Homo sapiens: one gene and its partner. The protein of the gene in region 1 purifies or fractionates together with the protein of each later gene. This does not show direct contact. Each region holds a gene or a part of one and is shown on either strand. Other genes may lie near its edges. The genes, in order: MRAS and PKLR.

Region 1 (3,811 bases):
GAATTATATACTTTTAAAGTATTAATATTATGGCATGTAGATTGTATCTCAATTTTAAAAAGCACCGTCCTCCAAGGGTTTGTCTGCAGCCCTGGGACTTTGAACAATTTGAACAGGTACCAAGCACCTTCCCATCTTGGGACTTTGCATTTTGTCTTCTCTCTGCCTAGAACATTGTTCCTGCAGAAACACTGATTTCATTTAGGTCTCAGCTCAAATGTCACTTTATCTAAGAGGTCTTCCCTGACCAAACCATTGACACTAGTATCCACCCCACCCCAGTCATTTCTATGCCCAACTCTGTTCTTCTTTATTCTGCCTTTTATGGTTGGACATATTTTATCTTTGTTTGTGTTTTTGTCTCTGCTGACTAAAATATAAATGTCTGAGAGCAGGGACTTTATTTACTGACTGCATTATTCCTAGCATCTAGAATACTGCTTGGCTCATAGTAGCTCCCCAGTAAACATTTGTGGAATGACCAAATGAAAGAATAAACCTTGAACAATATATGTGTAGTGAAAGGTTTGATGTGCTAGCTATATTATTTTTTTCTAACTCACATTACAATAATAAGTATATATAACTATTAAAATTAAAACTTACATCTGTGCACTTTCTAAAATCATTTCATGCATCACCTATTGGAATATATGGCACACTTTGGGATATACTGAGTTAAATAAATGTAAACAAGTTTCTTCACTGCAGGACTTACAAGAACTTTTAACATGCAAACACATATTAGAGGTGTAGTGATAGGATACATTGTCCTTAGAGCTTCCCACAGGGGTCATTTTTTGCACGTGATTCTGAACTATGTTCCATAGAGAACATTCTGAAACACATTGCATAATGCATGTAAGAAAGTAACACCATGCCTGGTACATCGTTGGAACTCAATCAGTATTTCTCTCTACAGCCATATAAACTTCTCTGACTTTTTCCTGAGTACCTTTGGATGTTAAATTGGTTTCTGAGGAAAAATGTTTTCCTCAAGATTGAATGTTTTCCTCAACATTTATAGCAGGAGCAGCAGGGAGAGGGGAAACATGGCCGCAGCATTATATTAGAAGTGTGCATTTGCAAAGCCTGTGTTCTGAATGCCTGGGCTCTCCATGGCATTACTTTAGAAGAATGAGTTTGTTAAGCTTCTAATTCTGCCACCAGAGTCAGGCCCGATTTAGGGCATTGCCCACCCAGGCCTTCCTCGGGAATAGACACCAGATTCCCAGATTAGATGCTTCTCCACTCCATTAGATCTGCTATTAAGAAAAGGAAGACTTGGCCGGGTGCGGTGGCTCACGCCTGTAATCCCACCACTTTGTGAGGCCGAGGTGGGTGGATCACGAGGTCAGGAGTTTGAGACCAGCCTGACCAACATAGTGAAACCCCGCTTCTACTAAAAATACAAAAAAAATTAGCCAGGCCTGGTGGCGCCTGTCATCTCAGCTACTCGGGAGCCTGAGGCAGGAGAATTGCCTGAACCCAGGAGGCGGAGGTTGCAGTGAGTAACTCTGAACCTTTCTGGGGCTGAACTTTTCTGGAGTGGTCTGCACCCCTCAGATGGCCAGGACTTCCCTGGGCATCTGGATCCCAGGGGTCCTGCTCCCCTGAGGCCATGCCATCTTCGGGGAGGTGCTAAGCCTGGAGGTGCCCTCAGTTGCCCTGTACCCCACTGAACTCCAGGGGATCTCAACTCTGCAGTTTCTCTTCTTCCAAACTCAGAAAGAATAAAAACGTGGCAGCACGATGATGAGGAGAAGGAAGAGAATGATAATTTTGATGACGGGGTATTGAATGGGCAGAAACTGTGTGGAAGGCCCGTGCTAAGCACATTGCATTTGCTGTCTTTGAATCCTTACAAATGCTATCGTGGTAGTTGCTGTTGTTATTTCTGTTTTATAGTTGAAGAAAATACAGCAAAAGTTTCACACAACCAGCAACAGTTTGAGCTACCTGTTGACTCCTACCCACTGTCAGTCTGGTTGTGTAGGAAAATCCTCCCCCACAGCACAGTGGATCCTTGTGCCTCTGGGAAGGGGAGCTGAAGTCCCAGGAAGAAGTGGGTGTGGCTGAACTATCATACCTCTTCTGCCCTTCTTACTCCTCACCCAGGGTCCTTCAGAGAACCAGGTGCTCCGGTTGTGATCTCAGTCTCACGTCAGAGATTTGCAAGCTGCTTAAGGAAGCCTTCTCTGTGACTTCCACACTGATTATTCTCACAGGCTGCCTGCTTTCTTGCAAACCTGTTTCTTGTTTTCTTCCAGGAAGTCACATTGCCTGTGTCCTCCCAGAACCTAAGAGACAAGAGCTGGCTGGCCTCAGGGGCCAGCAGCCAGGCTCTCCTGTGGCTGTGGGACCCCCAGGCTTTGGAGCAAGCCTGCTCTGAGTTCTTTCCTGCAAGGGTTCGGGATCCTCATCTCACTTTATATTGTCAAGGGCCCAACCCTCGGAGCCTCTCTTCCTCCCCGTCTGGTCCCTGCTTCTCCACTGTGGGGTTTGCTTCGGCTGTCCCATCTCCATGCTCTCAGCCCTCTCCTCCTGTCTCTGACTTTGGAACACCACCTCACCTTGGCTTTCAGCTGTGTGACTGCCCTCACCCCAATTCTCTCTTGTCATGAATCAGGAAGCCCCAAACCTTCGGCAGAGCCATAGAGTTTTGTGTTTGTTTGTTTTATTGTGATAAAGTGTACATAACATAAAAGTTACCATCTTAACCATCTCTAAGTGCATAGTGCATTCACTTTGTTCTACAACCATCCCTGCCATTCATCTCCAGAACCTTTTCACCTTCCTCAACTGAAACTCTGTACCTATTAAACACTGACTCCCCATTCTCCCCTCTCCTCAGTCCCTGGCAACCACTATTCTGCTTGCTCCCTTTTCTTTTATTGATATCATATTCATACATATTTTGAGGGCATGGTAATGATCAAATCCAGGTAATTAGCATATCCATCACCTCAAACATTCTTTCTTTGTATTGGGAACATTACAATTCTTCTCTTCTAGCTATTTTGAAATTTGCAATGAATTATTGTTAACTATAATTTCCCTACTGTGCTATCAAATACTAGAACTTATTCCTTCTCTTTGTATTTCTGTACCCATTAACCAACTTCTCTTCATCCCCCCACCCACACACCCTTCCCAGCCTTTGATGTCAATCATTCCACTCTCTACCTCCATGAAATCCACTGTTTTAGCTCCCACATATCAGTGAGAGCATGCAATATTTGTCTTTCTGTGCCTGGCTTGTTTCACTTAACATAATGACCTCCAGTTCCATCCATGTTGCTGCAAATGACAGAATGTCTTTTTTTTTTTTTTTTTTTTTTTTGAGACGGAGTCTCACACTTGTTGGGCAGACTAGAGTTCAGTGGCACGATCACTGCAACCTCCCCCTCCCGGGTTCAAGCAATTCTCCTGCCTAAGCCTCCCAAGTAGCTGAAATTACAGGCACCTGCCAACACGCTCGGCTAATTTTTGTATTTTTAGTAGAGATGGGGTTTCACCATCTTGGCTAGGTTGGTCTCGAACTCCTGACCTCAGGTGATCTGCCCACCTCGGCCTCCCAAAGTGCTGGCATTACAGGCATGAGCCACTGCGCCCAGCCTCATTCTTTGTTATGGATGAATAATATTCTATTGTGTATATATGCTACATTTTCTTTATCATTCATTCATTGAAAGGCACTTAGGTTGCTTCCTTACTCTTGGCTATTGTGACTAGCGCTATGATAAACATGGGAGTGCAGGTATCACTTCAATATACTGATTTCCTTTCCTTTGAGTGTATACTCAGCAGT
Region 2 (4,460 bases), on another chromosome or scaffold:
TAAAAATTTAAAAAGTAGCCAGGCATGGTGGTGCACACCTGTAGTACTGGCTACTTGGGAGGCTGAGGTGGGAGGATCGTTGGAGCCCAGGAAGTCAAGGCTACAGTGAGCCATGATCACACGAGTGCACTCCAGCCAGGGTGACAGAGTGAGACCCTTTAAAAAAAAAAGAAAGAAAACAAGGCTGGGCATGATGGCTCACACCTGTAATCCCACCAGTTTGAGAGGCCGAGGCTGGTGGATACTTGAGGCCAGGAGTTGGAGACCAGCCTGGACAACATGGTGAAACCCCATCTTTACTAAAAATACAAAAATTAGGCCAGGCACAGTGGCTCACACCTGTAATCCCAGCACTTTGGGAAGCTGTGGCGGGCAGATCACCTGAGGTCAGGAGTTCGAGACCAGCCTGACCAACATGGTGAAACCCCGTCTCTACTAAAAATACAAAAATTAGCCAGGCGTGGTGGTGCATGCCTGTAATCCCAGCTACTCAGGAGGCTGAGACAGGATAATCGCTTGAACCCAGGAGGCAGAAGTTGCAGTGAGCCAAGATCACGCCACTGCACTCCAACCTGGGCAACAGAGTCAGACTCAGTCTCAAAAAAAAAAAAAAAAAGAAAAGAAAAGAAAAAAGAAAAACAAAATTAGCTGGGTGTGGTGGTGCACGTCTGTAATCCCAGCTACTCGGTAGGCTGAGGCAGGAGGATCGCAGAGGTTGCAATGAACTGAGATTGCGCCACTGCACTCCAGCCTGGGCGACAGAGTGAGACTCTGTGAAAAAAAAAAGAAAAAAAAGAAAAAAGAAAAAGAAAAAAGGAAGGAAGGGAGGGAGGAAAGAAAATTTCCCTGGGGGTAGGAGTCTATAAGTTTAGCAAAATAGTCGATCTTTCAGTGTTTCCAGCAACAACCTAATCAAGTTTATCAGTGTCTGAGAATGTTCAAGGTACCATCTTGGGTTCAAACATGTAGGCGAAAACATGCAGCTGGCCAGGTTACAGAGTGGTGAAGGCACTCTGCATTTCTTGGTTGAGACAGAGAAAAAAAGTGGTCAGAACTGGGTAACCCTCCCCCCACCATATTATCACAGTGATCCCTTTTGTCTTTCTTCAGGCTCCAGCCCCACCCTACAGCCCCTGCTCCCTGGATTCACTAGAGCTAACTTCAGTAAAGTACAAAGAAAATGGGGCCATATGACTGGCCAAAAAAAAAATATCTATTCACGTGGATGACCAGATAGTATGAATGGATTGAAAATTTATCAGGAAAAAAGGATGAGAGGAAATGCCAGGAGATGAGGGCAGAGAGCAGGCCGTTCTGGGGGAGGGATTCTGTGGGGACAGGGTGGCCTACTGGGTGTGCCCCTTTTCTCTTCTCTGTCTCCCTTAGATAAGACCAGCAGTTTTGTCATCCTCTCCCTCTCATTCCATGGTCCCGCAGCCCCAGGCCCACACTGAAAGCATGTCGATCCAGGAGAACATATCATCCCTGCAGCTTCGGTCATGGGTCTCTAAGTCCCAAAGAGACTTAGCAAAGTCCATCCTGATTGGGGCTCCAGGAGGTAAGAAGGGGAGACAGAAGCCATGGAACATAGGAGGAAAATGAGGGTGAAAACTAGGAGCCAGGGTGGAGGGCATAAATGATCCACATCAGCCACTGGCTAGGTGGGTTTTGGAGAGGAACGTACGTTCTTCAGAGCCTCCCGTGTGTTAAATTATGGACCCTGGCCTGGGTCTTTTCCAGGCCCTATAGGCAGGCCAGAGCCACAGCATGTAAGCCACGGGGCACTCCCGTGGTTCCTGGACTCTGGCCCCTGGCATACAGGGCTTCCAATGGAACAGGAGACAGTGGTGACACTTTAACCAGTCTGCAGAACTGATCCCCAGCCCAGCTGGGCCTCATGCCTCTGACAACCCAACAGTGTGGAGCAGACCCACAGAGAGGGAGACCCAGAGAGGTGTGCAGTGGCATGGAAGGTGCGGCTGGAATCGGGGGCTCCTCTGAACTGGGATGGGTCAAGCTACAGGGACCTCTGTGTCTGTAGCAGCTTTGAGAAGCCTGGGGAGACTCAGAGGATGGGGTGGGGAAGCCAGCCAGTAGCCAGGGGTTGGAAGGGAGAAAACAGAGACCTTTGGAGCAGGAACTGGGTGATTCTGGGTCTGCATAGGGTGAGGCTGCTGGGGACTAGACATCAAGGGGTGGTGGGGTTGAGGGTCATCAGTAGCTGCAGGTCGGGGGGTCCTGGGTTGTGCGGGGTCAGTATAACTGAGTGGTCAAGAACTTGGGCTAGAGTTAGTCAGACCTAGATTTGAATCCTAGCTGATCCATACTTAGAAGCTGTATAATATTGGACCATTTATTTCCTGTTTCTCAGCCTCTGTTTCTTTATCCATAAAATTGGATAATTATAGAACATTTAACAGTACCTGCTTTATAGGATCCTTGTGACATAATAAAATAATATATGCATGATGCCCAGCTCATAAGAAGGGAAGGAACAGAGGGTATGCTGAGAGACGAAGGCATGGGGAGGAAGGGCAGGTGACATGCAGTCCCTGAGCCCCCTTCTACCACAGGGCCAGCGGGGTATCTGCGGCGGGCCAGTGTGGCCCAACTGACCCAGGAGCTGGGCACTGCCTTCTTCCAGCAGCAGCAGCTGCCAGCTGCTATGGCAGACACCTTCCTGGAACACCTCTGCCTACTGGACATTGACTCCGAGCCCGTGGCTGCTCGCAGTACCAGCATCATTGCCACCATCGGTAAGCACTCCCATCCCCCTGCAGCCACACAGGGCCTATTGGTATTTCTTGAGGTGCTTCTTCATCTTTTGTCTCCTTTGAGACTTCTCCATGTTTGACACAGTCATTCATTTAACAAAAATTTGTTGAGCATATAGTAGACAAGATTTTGGGCCCTGGGAGTAGATCAGTGAAAAAAACAGACAAAAATCCCTACCCTTGGGGAGCTGACAGTCTAGCTGAGTATGACAATAAATAGTAAGCACAATAAATTATTTAAAATAAGTAAATTATTTATTCCGTTAGAAAGTGAGGCCGGGCATGGTGGCTCATGCCTGTAATCGCAGCATGTTGGGAGGCCCAGGTGGGCAGATCACTTGAGGTCAGGAGTTCGAGACTAGCCTGACCAACATGGAGAAACCCCGTCTCTACTAAAAATACAAAATTAGCCGGGCATGGTGGTGCGTGCCTGCAATCCCAGCTACTCAGGAGGCTGAGGCAGGAGAATCGCTTGAACCCAGGAGGCGGAGACTGTGGTGAGCCGAGATCACACCATTGCATTCCAGCCTGGGCAACAGGAGAAAAACTCCATCTCACAAAAAAAAAAAAAAAAAAAAAAAAAAAAAAGTGGGCTGGGCTCAGTGGCTCATGCCTGTAATCCCAGCACTTTAGGAGGCCAAGGTTGGCAGATCGCTTGAGCCCAGGAGTTTGAGACCAGTCTGGGTAAATGGCAAAACCCATCTCTACAAAAAATACAAAACTTAGTTGAGTGTGGTGGTGCATGCCTGTAGTCCCAGCTACTCAGGAGGCTGAGGTGGGAGGATCACTTAAGCCCAGGAGGTCACGGCTGCAGTGAGTCATGATCGAGCCACTGTACTCCAGCCTAGGTGACAGACGAGACCCTAGAGAGAAAGAGAGAAAGAAAGAAAGAAGGAAAGAAAGAAAGAAAGAGAGAGAGAAAGAAGGAAGGAAGGAAGGAGGGAGGGAGGGAGGGAAGGAAGGAAGGAAAGAAAGCAAGCAGGCAAGAAAGAAAGAAAGAAAAGAAAGAAGGAAGGAAGGAAGGAAGGAAAGAAAGAAAGAAAGAGAAAGAAAGAAAGAAAGAAAGAAAGAAAGAAAGAAAGAAAGAAAGAAAGAAAGAAAGAAAGAAAGAAAGAAAGAAAGAAAGGAGTGAAAGTTGGCCGGGCATGGTGGCTCTTGCCTATAATCCCAGCACTTTGGGAGGCTGAGGCAGGTGGATCACCTGAGGTCAGGGGTCCGAGACCAGCCTGGCTAATGTGGTGAAACTCTGTTTCTACTAAAAATACAAAAAATTAGCCAGGCATGGTGGCATGTGCCTATAATCCCAGCTACTCGGGAGGCTGAGGCAGGGGAATCGCTTGAACCCGGGAGACAGAGATTGCAGTGAGCCAAGATCACGCCATTGCACTCCAGTTTGGGCAACAAGAGCGAAACTCTGTTTGTTTGTTTGTTTGTTTTTAAAAAAAGAAAAAAAAGCTGGGCGCGGTGGCTCACGCCTGTAATCCCAGCACTTTGGGAGGCCGAGGCGGGCGGATCACCTGAGGTCAGGAGTTCGAGACCAGCCTCAACATGGAGAAACCCCGTCTCTACTAAAAATACAAAAAATTATCCGGGCATGGTGGTGCATGCCTGTAATCCCAGCTACTCAGGAGGCTAAGGCAGGAGAATTGCTTGAACCTGGGAGGCGGAGGTTGCGGTGAGCCAAGA

What was found.
Region 2: the proteins of MRAS (region 1) and PKLR purify together in Homo sapiens (affinity purification with mass spectrometry; one large-scale study listed by BioGRID and IntAct). This does not show direct contact.

The regions. Positions count from the first base shown.
Region 1 is NC_000003.12:138,376,039-138,379,849, forward strand, and holds part of MRAS (ras-related protein M-Ras isoform 1 precursor), read left to right. Parts: intron 1-3,811. UniProt on the Homo sapiens protein: Signal transducer in the Ras-MAPK signaling pathway that regulates cell proliferation and survival. Core component of the SHOC2-MRAS-PP1c (SMP) holophosphatase complex that regulates the MAPK pathway activation.
Region 2 is NC_000001.11:155,298,394-155,302,853, reverse strand, and holds the start of PKLR (pyruvate kinase PKLR), read left to right. Parts: upstream 1-1,415; 5' UTR 1,416-1,458; coding exon 1,459-1,558; intron 1,559-1,901; exon of another isoform or gene 1,902-1,966; coding exon of another isoform or gene 1,967-1,973; intron 1,974-2,573; coding exon 2,574-2,756; intron 2,757-4,460. UniProt on the Homo sapiens protein: Pyruvate kinase that catalyzes the conversion of phosphoenolpyruvate to pyruvate with the synthesis of ATP, and which plays a key role in glycolysis.